Linked DNA regions of Homo sapiens. The protein of the gene in region 1 interacts with the protein of each later gene in a pairwise test. Each region holds a gene or a part of one and is shown on either strand. Other genes may lie near its edges.

The links. Proteins that work in one complex are often made in the same cells at the same time.
Region 2: the proteins of ROPN1 (region 1) and LMO4 interact in binary tests that used the Homo sapiens proteins (3 or more experiments, as listed by UniProt).
Region 3: the proteins of ROPN1 (region 1) and AP1M1 interact in binary tests that used the Homo sapiens proteins (3 or more experiments, as listed by UniProt).

What each region holds. Positions count from the first base shown.
Region 1 is NC_000003.12:123,968,507-123,975,145, reverse strand, and holds the end of ROPN1 (ropporin-1A), read left to right. Parts: intron 1-4,928; coding exon 4,929-5,104; intron 5,105-5,924; coding exon 5,925-5,991; 3' UTR 5,992-6,131; downstream 6,132-6,639. UniProt on the Homo sapiens protein: Important for male fertility. With ROPN1L, involved in fibrous sheath integrity and sperm motility, plays a role in PKA-dependent signaling processes required for spermatozoa capacitation.
Region 2 is NC_000001.11:87,338,873-87,345,901, forward strand, and holds part of LMO4 (LIM domain transcription factor LMO4), read left to right. Parts: intron 1-663; coding exon 664-760; intron 761-1,174; coding exon 1,175-1,330; intron 1,331-5,915; coding exon 5,916-5,924; 3' UTR 5,925-7,029. UniProt on the Homo sapiens protein: Transcription cofactor. Plays a role in establishing motor neuron identity, in concert with MNX1, acting, at least in part, to disrupt LDB1-LHX3 complexes thereby negatively modulating interneuron genes in motor neurons.
Region 3 is NC_000019.10:16,200,904-16,207,932, forward strand, and holds part of AP1M1 (AP-1 complex subunit mu-1), read left to right. Parts: intron 1-2,555; coding exon 2,556-2,712; intron 2,713-5,437; coding exon 5,438-5,505; intron 5,506-7,029. UniProt on the Homo sapiens protein: Subunit of clathrin-associated adaptor protein complex 1 that plays a role in protein sorting in the trans-Golgi network (TGN) and endosomes.

The DNA of each region.
Region 1 (6,639 bases):
ACAGTGTAGCTCTTGGATTATTTATGAATATTGCCCTCAGATTTATTTTCACTCCGCTCCTTCCATTCATATTCCCAGAGACAACCAAGAGCCGACTGTAGAAAAAGACTTCCAGACACCTAGAATATATATCAATAGACACTGTTTAAAAGGGGTACAATCTTATCGAAAACTATGTAATAAACAGAATTGGATGCAGAACTCAGACATAAGAAAGCAAAAAAAAAGAGAGATGAGGCTATTTCTGAATTTAGTCATGACATCTCCATGGATGCAGGATGTTCATACAGATTTATGCCTTTTCCAAATTTGACTTGTTTGATATTGGAAATGCAATTTTACTGTTTTGAAGCCAAAGATGCTGAAATCAGCTTATATGTATAGATATTTAAAGCTTGGGTATCTTATATGTGGACTTACATTGCTAAACATTGTTAAAATAACTTAAAATGAATCAAAAACGTGTTTTTTTAAAAGAATCCCTGAGATACATACAAGTTTGAAAATTATTGAGAAAATAATTGCCTCTGCCAAAACCAAATGGTATGAAAAGGTAGTCTGAATCATTCAGCATATCTAAACATAATCTTGTTCTTCTCAAATATGCTTGGAATACATATTTGACAGGTTTGTTTCTGAGAAAATTTAGTGGAAATATTGTAGTCCAAATTTCCTATAGATTCCCCTACAGCCTTCATCATAATCATTTCTTTAGAGAGAAGTAAACAAGAGGACATTTGTGGCACTTTCTTCATTGTCCTTTATAGCATTTATTACTGAATAAATCACTATCCTCTGAGGAGGAAAGGAAAGTAAGCAGCAGAGGCCTATGAGTTGTCAGTCAGGACTGGGGAAAATCACAAACAGGAAGATAAAAAATGAACATATTTTATTAAATTCTCATAGGGTTACAGATTTTTTTCACACCACATTTGGAGACGTTTTTGGGGGAAAATATACCTTTAAAATTTTATCTGTAGTTAATTTGGATCTTCTTGGTCTACCCCACCCACAAAGGGTCAAATAAGAAAATAAATAAATTCAATCCAATCCTGAAATTTTAGTCTGATGCAGTAACTGAAACAGCCTAAAGGTAAATTTCCCAGTATCTCAGGTTTTTCCTCACCACGCTCTCTTCTCCAAGATGGCAGTTGAATGTAGGCAGAAAGAGCTGACTCTAGGACCACAGAGCAGTCAAGTGAAGGGTTTCTCACATCCCTTAGTCTTCCCTGGCATCTCTGGTCTCCATGGTAATGCCTGTCTGTCTGGTCGCTAGCTGCTTGCAGCTTAAGTTTTTGGTCTCGTCTCTCCCGGACTGGTGAAAGGCTGATGATGCCTCCCCAACTGGCTCATTTCAGTTCTCAATGGTGTCGAGGGCCTCCTTGATTCTCTGCCAGGCTGTCCTATCTGCTCCCTGGCTCTGGTGGTCTACTTCACAGACCCTCACCAGTGTGTGGTGTGTCTGAGTTCTTCCCTTATCCCCATACCTCACAGTAACAAAGAGTGACTTTGGAAAGTCAGATTCCAACCCTCCCTCTGCTTAGCCCACGGTGTAGATGCTAGGTTTCCTCTGATGTACCTGCCTCCCAAACTGGAGAGGGGAAACCATGAGGTGAATTGAATCTTTCTACTTCCCTTCTAAAATAAGGAGGTGGGATTCAATATTCCATGAGGTTCATCTACCTCTGACATCCTGTGATTCTATCCCCACTTCTCTGCTTCCTCTGAGACACCCTCAGGCCCACCTCTGAATAACAGTGAGCTCCTCCAATTCTAAGAGGCCTTGACATATCTGACTTTGCTCCTCATCATCCCCATGTCAAAGAACCCCTAGAGATAAAGTCAGCCTGGAGGTTAAATCTGCAAATAAAGGGTGTCCTATGAAACCAGTAATCAATACCCTTATATTCATTTCTATCATGCTGGAGCTGGACTGTTTCTGGGATCTTAAATGTGGGGTTGGCCAGTGGTACGGTGTGAATGTTTGTGTTCTCCCAAAATTCATATATTGAAATCTCAACTTCCAAGGTGATGGCCTTAAAAGTAGGGCCTCTGGGAGTTGATTGGGTCATGAGGGTGGAGCCCTCATGAATGGGATTAGTGCCCTTATAAAAGTTGCCCCTCCACCAAGTGAGGACACATAGAAGGCATCATTCATGAGGAACAGGCCCTCACCAGAGAGCAAATCTGCTGGCCTCTTGGTCTTGGACTTCCCAGACTCCAAAACTGTGAGCAATACATTTCTGTTGTTTATAAATTACCCAGTCTAAGGTATTTTATTATAGCTGAGACTAAGTCAGGGGTCACCATCTGGTGGAGACCTTGCATCCTAGTTAATTCATATATCCTTAGAGGCAAGCCCAGAATTTCTCTTTCCTTTGCCAATTCAATAGCAAGACAAGATCTCTATGCCATTCAGAAAAGCCAGTTTGTTCCTTGTAGAAGATCTAGTAACAGGAATTTTTACTCTGGTAGGTAATAGGTACATTTACTCCATCTTGAGCTCTCTGCGTCTAATACACATTATTCAGAATGCGATGGCATGCAGACCTGTATTCCTCCTCCCTTCAGCACTCCTTCCTCTGGACTGGCCTATGCCACCTCCTGTTCCACTGAACTGATTATTAAAAAAGGAAGAGATCACGTATGTAGAAAATAATCATGTTCACTGGAAGGAATGACATATTTGTTAGCAAACGATTTACATTTCAAGGCTTTCACCTCTAACTTTGAAAATGAAGCTCGCAAGATGCTTAAAGATTATGTCTGTGAAGCGGATCCCAAAAAAATATTGTGCAAGAGAATGAAGATCTGTTTACTTTAGGTTTATGTCAGTTTACCAAATAGCTCCAGTCCAAAGAGTTATTTATACACTCATCCATTTATTAAATCTTTAAAAATACTTAAAAATCTTATGAGGCAGTAGAATTTGAAGGTTTGTAGTTTGAATAATCAATAAAAGATGATGTTTAGGGTTGAAAGCCGCTATGTTAGTTTGTTGCCATGACTTGGTGGCTTGAACAACAGAAATTTGTTGTCTCTCAGTTCTGGAGGACAGTTCTGGGAACAAGCTGTCAGCAGGATTGCTTTCTTCTGAGGCATTTCTCCTTGGCTTAAAAATGGCCAGCTTCTCAAACTGTGTTCCTCTGTGCCTACATGTCTGGTGGCTCTCTCTTTATATCCTAACTCCTCTTCTTATAAAGACACCCTACTAACTTCATTTTAACTTATCTTTTTAACGGTCGTATGTTCAAATACAATCACATTCTCCAGTTCTGGGGTTAAGGCTTTGGCATGAACTTTAGGGGGAACAATTCAGCCCATACCAGCACCCCATGGGAGAGGGCAACAGAACAAAGCATTAGGGGTGCAGAGGGTTGTTTTTGTTCATTTGTTTGTTTTTTACAGAAACAGGGTGAGCTGTGGGTGGAAATTATAATGTTCAGAGTGTGCTTGCAAATCTACCCCAAACCATTCTCCCACTGACCTCATCTCACATGCATGATTTACCATCCTCCCAGACAGCCTCATATATACTAGTTGGCCCCATGCCTGCCCTCCCACCTGCTCTGAATTAAGTGAAAGTGAGTAGAAGATGCAGTGTTTCACAACAATTTCCATGAGAGGACCCCCAGGGGCAGAGGAGAGGAAAGGAAGGTGGCCTGCCTCAAACTCAATTTTTTTTGACATCATGTATTGAAGATTCTGTTTTATAAAATAACAATGCTTATTAAATGTAAAGAATCAAATTTGAAATATTAACTCAATTAAAATTAATAATTATTACAAATTATGTTTAAATTACTTGCCATCAAGTAAAACTATCACTCAAGGAAGAGTTTATTCACATCCTCAGTACCTCCTGACATAGACTTACGCTCCTGGGTAACACACACCACAGTTAGAGAAGCCTCATCTAGGCAATCATTCTGTTCTGGGAGAGGATGAGAGGAGAACAGCAGACATCAACTGCTAAGGCAGGACAAGTCTCCTCTACTAATCATGTGGGAAGATACAGCAGCTGCTTTTTCACTCACCCTAAGTCACCACTCAGAACTGATCTTTCACTGATCCCTGGAAGAGTGTCAGGATGATCCGTACATCATCAGTTTCAGTAAACCACCAAGATCTGTTGGTGACCTTCATTTCACAACTCTTTTGCTTGTAACATTTATTCAAAGGGTGGGTTATTTAAAGACATGAGATGAGTTCTGAGCATGCTCCTTTAATGTTCAAGTTTCATTGCAAGGAGGGTTTGCTTCTGTAGTAACCCTTCTATTAAAATTCCTGGCACTCATTGTCAACCAATATTTCCCCAGCAATAAAAGGGTTAGTATTATGTAGTATGAAATAAAGCACTAGCTGATTCTATTTAGATGGACCCAGATGCTTTAGAGGAACGTTTATCTTGATGTTTAAGAACATTTTTCCAGTATCTTCCTGGGACTCCATTTTCCTGGGGAAATTACCCTTCTCCTACCTTCTTCTCCTCTACTGTGTCATTGCCACAAGTATCCTGCTGGACTATATAGGCTAGACCATCTATCTCAGCCCTTTAGAGATAAGACTGGAGGGTAATAAGAAGAAATAATTCTAATTATATAGAATGCAAATCAACTTCCCTCCTTTAGTGAGGTTATTCGGGCTAAAGTAACAAATATCTTAAAGTACTTAGGAATGTATAAATTTAATTCCTTGAGTAGTCTTCCAACAAAGAAAGAAAAGAAATAAAGATACCCAATACTTAATATTTTTTAGAATGAATTAGTGACATTTGAATGTAAAAATTTCAAGCTTTCTAGAATCTTAAATTGTTCCCACTTCATTTTATAAGAGCAATATTTTTGTTTTCTTTCTTGTATCTAAACCGATCTCAGGAATATTGCCTGGAAGAGTAACTTTCTCCTCATTTTATCTAACTTTTATAGACTATTACCAAAACTCTCAAGATAGTGTGTGAGGTCTTATCATGTGACCATAATGGTGGGTCGCCCCGGATCCCGTTCAGCACCTTCCAGTTTCTCTACACGTATATTGCCAAAGTGGATGGGGAGATCTCTGCATCACATGTCAGCAGGATGCTAAACTACATGGAACAGGAAGTGTAAGTTAACTTTTGTCAAGTGGAGGTGAAAGAATACCAGGAAAAGAAATCTAGCTGGCCAAGATAGTGAGATTATTGTATTATACTGCTCTGGAAACAGAAAAGTATTGTGAGAAACATGAAATATGGATGATCTGAAAGAAAACGGGAAAGGGAAGGAGAAGAGGAAGGAAAAGAATGATATAGGAAAACAATTCTTTCAGTGCTACTGAGACTAGCAGTAGCGGCAGCAGCACCTAAGAAGATGTTAGAAATGCAGAATCTCAGGCTACACCCTGGACCTATGGAATCATAAACTCTAGGGCCAGAGCCCAGGAATCTGTGTATTTATAAGCCCCCCTAGTAACTCTGACTCACGCTTAGCTATGACCAGTGGAACAGAAGTGGAGAAGGAGGAGGAGGAGAAGCAGGCAGTCAAAGGTTAAAAGAAAAAGAGGGCCGGTCATGGCGGCTCACACCTGTAACCCTAGGGTGGGTGGATGGCTTTAGCTCAGGAGTTCAAGACCGGCCTGGGCAATCTGGTGAAACCCTGTCTTTACTAAAAATACAAAAATTAGCTAGGCGTGGTGGTATGTGTCTGTATCAGTTAATTGGGAGAATAGCTTGAGCCCAGGAGGCAGAGGTTGCAGTGAGCCAAGATTGCACCAGTTACTCCAGCCTGGATGACAGAGCCAGACCCTGTCTCAGAAAACAAAACAAAACAAAAAAAGAGAAAAAGGAGCAACAGCAGAATTAATGTGAAATGAGAGTTGTTTGCATATTGTCTTTCTTAAGATTAACTGTCAATGAACTAACTGCAGATATACCTTTTTCCAAACAGAATTGGCCCTGATGGTATAATCACAGTGAATGACTTTACCCAAAACCCCAGGGTTCAGCTGGAGTAAAAGCACAATTTTGGCAATTTTAAAGGAAGATACAGAGATGATTGTACTTCAGAATGACTGAAACCCATATACCACCCAAAATCAATTTTCTTGTACAACTGGTACACACTAATAAACAATTAAACATATGAGATCAGAAATGTGCAGAATTAAGATGTGAAATTGTTGGAACAAAACACCTTCATTACCAGATTAGTATTCTTCCCACATGGACACTGAGTAAAAGTGGCTGACAAAGCATGGATAGAAAATGCATCTTCAATCAAAGCCAGACTGTCAGATTTTAAAAGGTAGTATGTTAACCAGACACAGTGTTGTTGTTCTGTGATTGTTAGGCATAATTTAGATGAGTGTCTTTTATATGGTCAATTGAAGTTTTTACCAGTTTATTTCTCCATTTGTTGGTACTGTGCTAGTCATTCATTCATCCTCTCACTCATCAATATTTATTGAGGTTAGCTATGTGCCAGGAATAGGGTTGCAAGAAATAAATACAGGACACCCAGTTAAATTTGAATTTCAGACAAACAACAAATATGTTTTGTTTTGGTTTTTGCTAAACCTGGCAGCATTCCAGGAACTATGCTGGCTTCTGAGCACATACAAATAAATAATATCAGAATTCTGCCTTCAAGGAGCTCACAGTCT
Region 2 (7,029 bases), on another chromosome or scaffold:
CTCAGGAGCAGATAGAGGGAAGTTGGAGCAAGCATTTCATTATCAAGAGAGAGAGAAGGTTAGGATGAAAGAGATGAGCAGAGGCAAATCTTAAGTGTTGACACCATGATTGAAAAGGTTAACCCATACACATTATATATCAACCTGGATAGCAGAGAGTTTCTAATGGAAAGTCTGCACTGATGGAGGTTTACGGGAGTTTCAATACACTGAGCATGATGTCTTCTTAGATATACAATCAAATCCTCTTAACCCTTTTGATGACTCATATCTGAAGATATGATTAAAGTACAAAAGAGTTCTTCATATAATTTCAAGGACACAATGCATTTAAACTCCAGTCATGAATTGTATCTTTTTTTTTTTTATGATGAACCTAGTAATCTGATAAAATGTGTGTAGAACAGAATTGTATTTGCTAGAGGTGTAAGTCAATATTTTGATTAAATCTGGGGCATCCTCTGCGGTAGGCAGAAGTTTGTTGTCCCACAAAAAGGATTTTTCCCAGATTATGTAAATCACTCAGAAAATCTGAGGCTTGAGCCTAAGAATTCAGCCTGTCAAATGCATTCCAAAGGGATGCCCAGAGTCTGGGGGTGTTTTTCTTTCTTTTTCTTTGGTTTAGGATTATTCACTGGTGTCAACCGTTATTCTTTGTTTCAGGTTATTTGGAAATAGCGGTGCTTGCAGCGCTTGCGGACAGTCGATTCCTGCGAGTGAACTCGTCATGAGGGCGCAAGGCAATGTGTATCATCTTAAGGTAGTATTTGCATCTCTCTTTTTTTTTTAAAAAAAAAATCATACCTTTCCTACCTACATGGGGGCAAAGCATTTCTCCTTGGTATGAACTGTTTTCTCAAGCTGCAGACACTTGAAGGAATGATTGAAATTGTAGCATGGCAGTGATGGTTACACATCCACATGCACAGACCACGCTTCCCCTATGCCACAGACAGAAGTACACATGTATTTGGATTTGTCCCCATTTAGCCTGGTCCAGTTGATAGCAATTTGGCTTACTGTTTTCTGGAGATCTGTCAAAGGAAGAAAAAACGCTAAACCCTAAGTGTCTCTGTACTTGACAGATACCTGCTTAATAACAGGTTATAAACTTGTGACCAAAAAAAGACTTAATTTTTACCTTGTTTTCAGTGGGTTTGTTTTTCCCTTTCAGTGTTTTACATGCTCTACCTGCCGGAATCGCCTGGTCCCGGGAGATCGGTTTCACTACATCAATGGCAGTTTATTTTGTGAACATGATAGACCTACAGCTCTCATCAATGGCCATTTGAATTCACTTCAGAGCAATCCACTACTGCCAGACCAGAAGGTGAATACCCAGCAATTACTAATAAGCTTTATTAGAGCAAGTTGGAAGGTTCAACCTCTTAACCTAGCAAGAGAGTTTTCTTGGGTGGTTGTATTTTTGCATGCCCTTTTAAAGAAATGTAGATTACTAGTTGTACATAGAGTGTTCAGAAGTAGGATAGCTGATTAAATTGTGAATCCTTTCTAGTTAAAAAAAAAATCCTGACTTTGTTATATCTGTAGCTTCACTCACGTTGAACATAAGATTATCACATGCAAAAGCAAACAAAATGTAAAGCTTCCATATAACTGGTTATTTATTCCATTTGACAATTTTGAAATTCAGAAACATGATGTGATAGGTTATTGTGGAAGAAAAATTAGAACATTTATGGTAGGAAAAGAGAATAAAGATCTTTGTTATGAAAGAATGATTTCTGCGTTAGGAATAGCAATCTGGACACCTGCCTTCCAAACCCAATTTACAATTCATTTACTTTTTAGAAGAGTAATTTTACAAAACATTCTGTAACTTCATAAGAGGGCATTTTTGTTCATTGGCGGTACCATAACATTTGAATAAGTTATGGCTTTTAAAACCAAGTTCTTGTTCTTGCTAACCCGCTTAGTGCCATTAATAGTGCCATTAGAAATTATGTATCTTGATTCTTGATCCACAACTTGAAAATCCTTGTACCAGAATTAAAAATTAGGAAATTATACAAGTATACAAATCATGTAGTATTAGAAGATATTCCAGAGGGAAAATTGGTGATCAACAGTTGTCCAGCACCCCCAGTACTGGATAGTTTTAGATCTATTTTAATCTCCTTAATAAGTCCTATAGCTATGCAAGTGAGTGCATTTTGATAACTGCTGTGCCTAATTTGTAACAATTACTGTCAACCTTCAGTTAAGAGACTGTTCATTCCACACCGGCCCAGAAAAGAGTGAAATGTATGACTCGTGTGCATAATTTTATTCACATCATATTTCATACTGATTATGTATTGATGACATTGATTCATTTACTCTTTACAGCGCCACTTGCATGGATATTAAATCTTATTGACCACAGATGAATTTTAATTTCAGATTGGTGATAGATTTTTCCATCAGCTCTGATAGTATGTTTGACTTTTTCATCATTAACCCAGGCAATCACACAGCACTGAGTTATTGCATTGAAACAAAAAGTGCACACTTCACTTGGTAATTCTTTATGGATTTACAATAGGAACTTCATTAATGTCTGTTGTAAGGATCACAAAAAAAACAACATTTATCTGCAAATAGGAATTTAGCAAGCTTCAAAAATCTCGGGGAAAAAAATAGACTTTTTTGTCTTCTGTAATGCATTTTCTTAGTGCGGTGGTGGAGGTGGGGGTTTGACAAATATTTGAAAACTTTTAACCATTAAAATTATGCTGCCATATTTTGATGCTTATATTTGCCCTTTTCCCTTGCTCAAGTTTATGAGGTAATTTTAAATGTATGTTCTGTTTCTTAGTGTTAATTACATGACATTATGTGCACTTTAATTTACTAATATGGGGAGCTACATAGAATAACCATTTTAAGAATAAAAGTTGAACTTTTTAATTGCAAACTAACCAGTCACTGCTGATGAGGTATTTCAAGCTTCTTCAAGGAGTGCCAAGACATATAAATGCTTAAAGATTTTTGTGATTTGGATTCTAATGAAGTGAATCTGCAGGGCAGAGTTGAGAACAATGAATGAGCAACATAAATATTTGGAGATACCTATTCAGAATAGAGGTAAAGCTGTTTGTAGTTACACTTGGTAGCAAAAAAGAAAAAATATGCTAGAAATAAAATGGTAGACCTTCTCTCCACTCCTTCTGATGTAAAAGCTTAATTTTTCCCCGAGTTAGAGCTTCACTTTGTTGCTGGTTTTATACCATTTCTTTCTCTGACTTAGCAAAGTACTATACAAAAAAATGATTGTTGCAGTTCACCAGCATGCATGGTGAGAATGAAAGGATGTAGAGATGAGATGGAAAATGTTGCTAGATTGTGAAGCACTGAATACAGGCAATAGCAGTGTTAGGTAGGGACCAAGTATAAAGCACACCTAAGAAATATGAGCAGGATTTCATACCATCTTTTATAGTATAAGATGGCATAAATTTAGAGGTGTTAGGGAGGAGAACTGCAGAAAAACCAGGTTTACCTGTTGATGAGATTACATGTCTTATGCCTTTCATTGAAATCTGTTTTCCACACCTTTTCCAGGATGGCAGTGGTAGGGTATTCATTTTGGAACACTATATTTTAGGCAATGAATAAGAACCTATTAGTGTATGTTTTCTTAATGTTGGAGGCCAAAAAAGAGACAGGTGGCCTTCAAAAATTAATAGCTCTTAAAAGGCATAAGGAAATACAACTTATGGAAATGTTCTTGTCAGACATTGGTGAGAAGCTGTGTTTTGGGGGTGCTGTTAATTAAGAACATTTCCCTGTTGGCGTAAGTGTCTCACATTTTTGCCCTTGGTGCCCAGCTCACCATGAGCACGGTCAATTCACAAGGTAGTTTTTATAAATAAAGGTTTTGGGCAAGCTGAACGTGGTCCAGAGAGATATTAATGAGAGGGCAAGGGGGAAGAGTTAATGAAAACATACTTCCTGGTGGAACATAAACTGCTTTTTGGAACTGGAGAGGCTTTAAAATTATTTTCCCAAAACCCTGTGGCGTTTCTTTTCTGGAGGCAATGAGATGGGGAGAAATGACAAATGGCTTCGTTTTATTATTTTCTCCTCTCTCGTTCTCCATATTTTTGGTAGGGAAAATTGGACATTTATTTTGGCCATTTTCCTTCTATTCGCAGAATCAATTACATTTTTGGTGTATTATGCGTGGTAAATATACTCAAGGATCCTCTGGCTTAAAAGCAATGAGTTGATTATTCGAACATCCCTTCTTTAAAGGCAGTTAATTGCATGGAAAACATAGGCCCCCATTGTCTGGTCCCTTTAAACTTTTATTCTGAGATTTGTTCCCAGGGTCTGGGCTGTGTAGTGTAGTTGTTGTTCTGCATCATTGGCTGTTGTATATTCCAAGAAAAATAATTTTAAGCTTTTAAATCATACAGTGATTGAAATCTTGCATTTCAGATGGACTGAAATCTCAGGCCACTAGTGTTCAAGGATCTACAACATTTTATAACCTATATCACTTAAAGGAGGCTTGGCTAGCTTTGGGAGAATGCTGCCTTCTAGAGGGTTATGTAAATCAGGAATTGTGGCTAATTTTTTCTTTTGTAGATTGCTGCCTGTTCTGGAATTTTTTTCTTCCACTCAAAAGTGTGATGGTGCCATCTAGAATTACCTGTGCTTTTCAGTTTTCAGTGGAACAGGAGTTAGATCACATCTCTTTAGTTGGAGGAAAATTTAGTGAGTGTTCTAGTCTACATGTCACTTCGCAGTTCCCCCATAGTTACATAATTGGTGTTGTGTGTGTCCATCGTAGAAGACATTTGATGCTCATTTATTAAATATGCTTGCTGGCTGCTGCTGCATCTTTGTTCTGGACAGACAAATTACCTTTCTCACACTGAGCTTCCACTCTGGGGAATTAAGCCTTCACCACTTTAATTAGCTTGGAAGTAGGGGGTTGCAGTTCCTAATAGACTACAGGCTTTTTGTAAGTTAGGGAAAGGGTGAAACGAGAACTTCCTGGGAGGCTCAAAATGTCATTTAAAAACCATAACAACCTAATATGTATTATTTCATTTTGGTAATTGCAAACAGATTGTATTTGACAAGTGTGTGGATTTCCATTTCTGACTTAGACATTGAAGCCACCCTTGCATTGAACTATGTTCTTTTATCTATCACAGGTCATTAACACATTGCATGTATTGAATCACATATTTGTGTAGCTATTAAGTGACATAGCAGATAAGAAATAGTGAAAAATATGTGAATATTTGTACATAGAAATTTTCATATAGACACACACCTATAGGTAGTACCAATATGGGTGAATATTTTTCACATGGGGATATCGGAATAATAATGATAACTGCCAGTATTTGTTGAACTTTTATTAAGGGCCAAGCACTGTTGAAAGTGCTCCCATATGTATTATGTAATTATCATAACAGTGTCATTATCCCTTCTTTAAAGATGAGGAAACTGAGACACAAGCAGTTTAAGCAACATTCCAAAAGGTTACACGGTTAAGCATATGAACCCAAAACTTCCTAGGTAGGAACTTGTCTTGGAATGTCCCCGCTATTTAAAAAATTCAAGATCCCACTGCTGGGCAAGATGTTACATTCCTTTTGGAAAGACACTTGCTCTTAACAGAGTTAAGCAATTAATTGTAGTACTTTACACCAGAAACTTTCTGAGCGTCCATTTACTGTCTCATTTTCTTTGCTAGTAAAACTGCAGAAAATGTTATGCTTTAGTTCTTCACTGCCAGAGTAAGTAGCATAGAAAGCCTCTATCAAGTCACAGTTGGAAAGTAATCTAATAAAAGAAGATTAGTGAATGTGGGGAAGACAAAAGCAGTCATGTTTGAGTTTAATATCTCTCAAATTTAGCATTTTAGCTAAGATGCCCGTTTTTATTTCTTGCAGGTCTGCTAAAAGGTCAGAGTAATGCAGAATGCGTGCCTTCATCTCAGATTTGTTCATCACAGGTGGATCCCATGTGTCTTCAGTAGACAAGTCACCTTTGTAGCTAGCACCAGTGCCAGCTCCATGCCATTGCACCTTCTTTAGTCTTGATTGCCCTTCCCGCATTTATTGGTGTATTAAAATGACTGAATATGAACATTAAGGACTCCATGAACCTGGGCTAATGGGAGACTGTAGAGAAAATGAAAAAAGATCCACCAGAGGACATCTTGGGGAGGGGGAGGGAGCTGGGGGGGAGGGAAATGACTAATGAAGCTAATTAAAAGAAGCATTCAAATCTGCTTTCTACCCTCATTAACAATTAGCAGGGCACTGGCCAGAGTTTGTACCCTGTGTTTTACCTTAACAACATTCTATTTGCTCTTTGTATATTTAAGTGTTGTAAGGAAACGTGTTTCAATCAAAACTGACCATGAGATAAAGGAAAGAGATGTGGCTTTTGTGATATTCTATCACAAACACTTATTGTATCTCTGTAAAATACAATGTATGTATGCATGTAAGTGTTTTTGTCCTAATGTTGCTACTCCCATGGCAAAGAAAAAAAAAAGAATGAAAAAAAGAAAAAAATTTGGAAAAAAAAATCAGGCTCATAGCAGCTACTGTGTAGAAAATTCCCCCTACTTCTAATTTGCTGAATGAAGAAAAAAAAAAATCTTTTATTTGTGATATTTTCAGAGACATTTGCTCTAGTATGGTGTATTTAAATAATAAAAACTTAAAAGAAAAAATATTTAATGGTGTTTGGGTTTAAACACTGCTTTTTCTCTTCTGTATTTTGAAGAAATTTAGTTTTTATTGTTGTTGAATAACAAGCTCACTTTAAATTTGAAGGAGTTGAGGGAGGTGGAGTGTATATTTATTTAGCTCTGGGCCAGTAAGGTATTCTTCAAATTACTTAACCACGCCATTATTGGCAGGGGTACAAAGTAGTTTCTAACAGGGTCCTTTCTATAAGTCAAGAATATTCTGTTAACAGCATTTCGTTACACTTCTATATCACAGTAAGTCTTTTGTGTTTATAAATACTTGAGTGTCCACTATTTTGTTTATT
Region 3 (7,029 bases), on another chromosome or scaffold:
ATGCTGTCACTCTTCCCAGGTGGGCTTTGACTCATGTCCATGGGCCAGTGACTCTCAATTTTGTTCACAGCATTTCTCTGGAGATCTAGTGGCCTCTGAGACACCAGAGAGGTCCCGCCGCCACCATAAATTCAGCATTCTTCTAAATGCACTCCCTGTACCTGCTCTCTTTCCATTTCAGTGATGCCATCACCCATTCAGCCATCTGCACAAGAGACCTGGACGTTATCCTCGCCTCCTTTGTCTCCTCACCCCTGTTTTCACTCCACAAATGTTTACTGAGCACCTACTATGGTCCAGGCCCCTTTCTGGGTGCTGGAAAACAGCTGTGAATGAGACAGGAGTAGTTGCTGTTCTCAGGGGATGTCAGACAGTAAAGGAGGATAGAAATAAATGTTTAATGCACCAGGTGATAGGGATAAAGCAGGGGTCAGGGTTCAGAGGGATGGGACATGATCTCAGCCAGAGCAAGCAGGGAGGATTTCTTTTTTTTTTTTTTTTTTTTTTTTTTTTGAGATGGAGTTACGTTCTGTCAGCCAAGCTGGAGTGCAATGGCACAATCTCGGCTCACTGCAACCTCTGCCTCCCAGGTTCAAGTGATTCTCCTGCCTCAGCCTCCCAAGTAGCTGGGACTACAGGCATGCACCACCACGCCTGGCTAATTTTGTATTTTTAGTAGAGACAGGGTTTCACCATATTGGTCAGGCTGGTCTCAAACTCCTGACTTCAGATGATCCGCCTGCCTCAGCCTCCCAAAGTGCTGGGATTACAGGCGTGAGCCACCGCGCCCAGCTGGGAGGACTTCCTAGAGGAGGTGTTATTTGAGCTGAGGCTTGAGAAATGAGAAGAGCCAGGTCAGGGCAAAGGCCCGAGGTGGGAACAGATGTGGATCACTCAGAGACCAGCTAAGGGGCCAGGCTGGAGCAGAGTGAACCAGGGCAGCGCAGGCAGAGAGGCGTCAGAGGGGCTGTGAGGAGCCAGACCACGCTGGTCCTTGGGAGCCATGGGGACGGGCTTGGGCTTTGTTCTCAGTGCCGGGGAGGCTGGGGTAAGTGGCAGTTCAGCAGTGGGGGAGAGACCCCGTCTGGCTTCTGTGTAGGAAGAGCCCTGTCACCCTTTGTGAGGAAGGACCTGGGGGGTCAAGAGTGACAGCAGGGGGAGGGGCTGTTCCCTCAACACGTCATCACCTGCCTCCCTCCAATCAGTTCCACAGGCCACGAAGCAGACACTAGGAAAGGAAGGTGCCACCCCGCACCACCCCCAGTCTCGCCTTGAGAGAATAAAGGCAGCGTGTGATGAAATGCCAAGTTCTGAGGCAGGTGGTTCCCAGGATGGTCAGCGCCGCAATGGCCTTCTCAGCATGTTGCTGAGTCCTGCAGCTGGCTGTCCTGCAGGCCCCAAGAGCTGCAGCTGCTCCAGGCAGCATCTCCAACCGCAGCCATGCCCAGGCTAGCAAAACTTCCGACCTCCTTTTTATTCTTTAATGAGGTATAATTTACATTAATAACCTGCACTTATCTAAAGTGTACAATTTGATGAGCTCAGTCATGTGGGAAGCCATAACCACACATTCCATCGCCCCCGAAAGCTTCTTCACACCCCTTTGCTGTCTAGCCCCATCCCTAGGCACCCACCGATGTGTTTTTCATCACCATTTTCTAGGATTTTATACACGTGCAGTCATGCAGGATGAGCTCTCGTTTGTCTGGTTTCTCTCAGCCAGCACAGTGATTCTGATGCGCCTGTGTATCGGGAGTCCGATCCCTTCCGTTGCTGAGGCATGCTTCTCATGGTGTGCACGGATACAGTTTGTTTCTAGTTCACCTGCTGAAGGACATTGGCATTGTTTCTAGTCTGGGTCTGTTTCAATTAAAGCTGCTGTTAAGATTCTCGTGCTAGTGTTTGTGCAGACATGTGGTTTCATTTCTCTTGGGTAAATACCAGAGAGAGGAATGACTGGATCGTATGGTAACTCTGGGTTTCACTTTTTGAGAAACTGCCAGACTACACCAAAGTAGTTGTCCCATTTTCCATTCCTATCAGCAGTGGACAGGGGTTCTGGATGCTGTATATCCTGACCCACAGGCTATGAAAGAGAGAGACCAGGAAGAGGGCTTCTCCCTTCAGGCCACCTGTGGACTTCAGTAAATACGAACCTTCAGCGGGAGTGGGCGCCCTGACACAGGCGGGAGAGCAAGGTGCGTTGGCCCGGCAAAGGCTCTGAGAAGGTCTGCATTGAGAGCTTGTGAGGCATTGCTTAACCTGATGTCTCTGGGTGATTCAGTCCTGGACCTTTGCTGCAGAGTTCGCCTCTACCCTCACCCTGCGAAGAACTGCAGTGGCCCCTGTGGGCATTCACACTGGGAGATGCTCTTCTCCAGGAATTCCCTGGGGGATGGAGATCAGAACGGCCTCAAGTCCTGCTCTTTTGCGGATAGTGGCCATGACCGGAGTCCCCAGAGCGAAGCAGGGTGGTGCATCTCACCCCCTGCCCCAAGCCCCCAGATTGTAGAACTGAAAATGCAAGCATCTTTTCTCTTCCTTCCCCACCCCAGGTGCTCATCTGCCGGAACTACCGTGGCGACGTGGACATGTCAGAGGTGGAGCACTTCATGCCCATCCTGATGGAGAAGGAGGAGGAGGGGATGCTGTCGCCCATCCTGGCCCACGGGGGGGTCCGTTTCATGTGGATCAAACACAACAACCTGTATCGTATCCCTTTGCTGGGGGTGCTCCCAGGGGACTCCTGTGTGGGTGTTGGTGTGTGTGCATATCCACACGCCTGCAAGCAGGGCTGGTTTGTGCACAGCGCAAGCATTGGACACAGCCATGCCCTCCTGGAGCTCCCTGCTGCCTGCGGAGACAGGCAGACAATGCACGATGACATGTGTGATGGGTGTGGGGAGAGGAGCAGGTGTGACTTGAACCTCTTCAGCCCAGGGGCCCAGGAAGGGAAATGACACCCTGGAGGAAGCCTGCAGGGAGGCCTGGCTTCTGCCAGCTGGAGGGGTGGGCAGGCACTAGGCGTGGGTGAAGGCTCTGCAGGGAAGAGCCTCATTCCAACAGCTGCACTCGGGGTGGCTGGAGAGGGGGCGTGTAGGGCAGCGAGGCTGGAGTGGTCAGCGGGGTCTGGGGTCTCAAAGAACATCATCTGAAATGTGACAGGAAGTCTCTGGAGGCTTTTAGATGTGTGTCTTCTGGAGGTTTCTGGCTGCTGAGTGGGGCAAGACTGTGGGGACAGGAGAGGACATGGGTAGGTGGGGAGTAGGCTGGGGCCATCGTGCAGGTGGGAGGGGAAGTGGCCTGGACCACGGAGGGGTGGTGGGGTACAGCCCCGCCCAGATCTCAGAGCCCCCCACCCTTCCTGTCCTTGGGCCCATGGGGAGACTTGGCCAAGCCAGTTTCTATCCAGGAGGTCTAACTGGCCACCCCACAGCTTTGGGCAGACCCGCAAGCCCATCTCAGTACCCACACTACTGCGGAAGGGCCTGCTTTGCCACTCACAGCCCGTTTGAGCCCCAGCTCCAGCAGCCATGGGGGATCCCTCACCTTCCCACAGTTCAGTGGGAACAACGACCCCTCACTGCAGGACCATTCGGGTCAGTTGAACTGACTTGTGCATATTGCTCCCAGCAGGCATGGGCTCTGTGCCCTTTCCTGTGTTCTTGGAGACACTTGGGGCCTTGCCAGTACAGTGTGGCCAACGGGCCAGAATATCCGCTGGGAGCCCTTTGGAAATGCAGAATCCCAGGCTCCACCCAGCCCTGCCCCGTCAGAATCTGCATTGTAGGAAGATTTGTTCCTGGTGGCCGGTGTGCACATTCCCATGTGGGCCGTGCTGGCCCAGGGCTCCCTGTGGTGTGCCTCTGTGTAGATTTCACCTGGCTCTGGAAGGCCCTGAGAATAGCTCTGAAGATGATCTTAGGTGGCTTTTTTTTTTTTTTTGAGACAGAGTCTCGCTCTGTCGCCCAGGCTGGAGTGCAGTGGCGCCATCTGGGCTCACTGCAAGCTCCGCCTCCCGGGTTCGCGCTATTCTCCTGCCTCAGCCTCCCGAGTAGCTGGGACTACAGGCGCCCGCCACCACGCCCAGCTAATTTTTTTGTATTTTTTTAGTAGAGACAGGGTTTCACCATGTTAGCCAGGATGGTCTCGATCTCCTGACCTCGTGATCCGCCCGCCTCAGCCTCCCAAAATGCTGGGATTACAGTCGTGAGCCACCGTGCCCGGCCTAGGTGGCTTTTAACCCAGGGAACTGACAGTCCTCTGAAGCCGCCCAGGTATTGGGAGAGGGAGAGGTGGCTGTGGTCTGAGCTCAGCAGGAGCCATCAGATCAGTTTCTGGTTGGGCCCCCACATTTCACACCTGGGCATCTAGGGAAGAGACAGGGAGGGCTCACCCCTCTGGCTTAGTGGACATCGTTTCACCCCCAGCCGGGACAGTGCTCAGCAAGGCCGTGGCTGAGAGGCACCCATGAGAAGGTGAGAGGCCCCCACTGCCCCTGCTTATAAAGCATCTGGGGAGGGCACATTGCCAGGCAGCAGGAGGGAGGCCAGCACTCGTTTGACTGGGCCAGCGTCCCTTTCCTGGGCCCCTGTGCTGTGCTGGGGTGAGGCGGGAAGGGAGAGGATACAGCCCCCACCCTCCCTCCTAGAGCTCACTCCTGGGCAGACGAGCCAGGCAGCACAGATGTGCCATGAACAGGGATGTCCAGGGTGCAGTGCATGGGCCTACAGAGGAAGAACCAGCCTTCTCTGGCGGCCCGGGGACCCATTAGGGAAAAAGGAATAGGAAGCGCCCAGCACACACTGACCCTGGGAGGCAGGGGCTGGCTCCTGTGGCAGAAGGGAACATCTGTGCCAGACATCTCACCTACATTGCCTTGGTGAGTTCATTCACAGGCCTCCATTACACAGGAGAGAAATATCAAGGTTTCTCTAGAAAGGTTTATTTCATGGGCCAAGGCTTGTGTTTCCAAAGCCAGGAAGGGCTGAAGCCAGAATTGGCCCTGGCTGCTTGCCACAGAGTCTGGCCGGGGGACCCTGGACCTCAGCAGGGTCATGATGAGGTCAGCTTTGGAGGAGCAGGGCCAGTGTGTCCTGCTTTCTGCTCCTGGAATGAGCCTCACTCCCTCCCTGCTCAAGGCAGCCCTTCACCCAGCCGCCGGGACAGGTGCCCTGTGCCACCTGCCATCCCTGTGATTCTCCATCTCAGTGAGTGCTCCCTGGGGCCTGGGAGCGCATCTGGCTGGTGACTCCTGTGTCCCAGGTCTAGCTTGGACCAGGAGCTTTGTAGCCCACCATGGGCCAAGTAAACGGCTGGGAGTGGGGATAGGGAAGGCTCTGAGGGTTGTGAGGGTTAGGGGGTCCCTCCATGAACCAGGATCTTCCAGGCAGCAGCCCCAGCCTCTGAATGCTCCTTAACTGTGGCCGCCATGCAGTGGTTGCCACATCCAAGAAGAACGCGTGCGTGTCGCTGGTCTTTTCTTTCCTCTATAAGGTGGTGCAGGTGAGTCTCGCTCGGAGGGGCCGTGGGCTTGGGTGGAGGTTGTCTTGGCTCTGCTTGTGGACCTCCCCATACCTGGCCACCCTACAGAGAGCTGTGGCATCCCCAGGGAGCACTGGGGCTGGAAGCCCAGGAAGTGGGAAAGGGGAGTCCCAACTCCCCACGCCTGTGGAATTCTATAGCTCACGTTGCTCCCCTACCGTGGGGAAGAAAGGAAAGTGAACAGGAAAAGGTAGGGCTCAGAGCAGGGGTGCCCTGACCCTGGAAGGGACAAGCAGGGGTCAGCGAGCTTTGGAAGGATGTGGGGTGACCAGCTGGATGGGGCTGGAATAACCAGCAGAGCTGCAGAGCTGAGCCCACCTCAGAATCTCCCAGGGGGCTCTCAAGGCACAGATGCCTGACGCCCACCTTGGAGAGAGCTGACACGCCAGGCCCAGGCTGCCAGTGAGACACAGATAGCAGCCAGGGTGAAGGCGCCAGGACAGGTGTATGTGTGGTGCAGCTAGGGAGGCCAGCGTGCGTGTGGCAGAGTATGAGGCTGAGGTCAGCTGGGAAGAGGGCGGATTATACAGGAGTGTGGATTTCATTCCACTTCTGATGAAAGGTAGTGGAGGGCTTTAAGCAGGAGACTGACAAGACGTGGTTTGATCTAAAGCAGCCTCTCTGGCTGCTGAGCAGAAGGAGGACTTGAGGCCAGTGAGGAGGCTGCTGCTGGCTTCCCGGAGAGGATGGGCCTGGCCGAGGTGGGCTGTGGGGCTCACGAAAGTGGGGAACAGGACCCAGGAGGCCTGTGCTGGGCCTGGGAAAGCTTTCATCCCTCACTGATGCTGCCTGTGCAGAATGTTGGGGAACAGGGGCAAGCCTGGGCGGTGAGGGCTTGGGGAAGGAGCCGAGGGTCACCTGGGAAGGCCCCACGTGCAGGCCAAGGGCTGCCTTCACTGGACCGGTGATGCTGTCACAGGCAGGGCTGGGCCTGGCTGTGCTGCCTGTGGTTTCCAAGCAGAGGCCGGGTGATCACAGTCCTGAAGCGCGCAGGGGTCAGCAGATCAGAGAATGGGGGATGCGGGAAGGGGAAGGTCCTCACCCAAGGGTTGGGCTGTGCCTTTCTGTTTTAGTGACGCTCCTTCCTTCAGCATTTGTGCCTGCAAAAGTGCTTCTAACAGCCCCTCTTCTTTGGCGTCCCTTCCTTAACCTTCTGAGCTTTCCATTGAAATGGGGAAGATGCATCAAGCTTTCCACTGAAATGGGGAAGATGGCAGCTCATCAGGTCCTTGCCTGAGTCACTCCAGACTCAGAAAGGGATGACAGTTACAGTCGCTCAGGAGGGGCTGCCTGTCTGCGGGTGTCTGGGCAGGGAAGAGAATGGGAACGCAGAGCTTCTGAAGGCCTCGGGACATCTGCAGTGGCTCCAGCCTGGCCCCACCCCACAGCCAGCCACTGCTGTCCTGCCCCATAACCTGGGTCCAGGGCCCTGTAGCACACCACCGAGCCTGGGAAGTAGGCTGTTGGTAGGACTTAGCGGGCAAA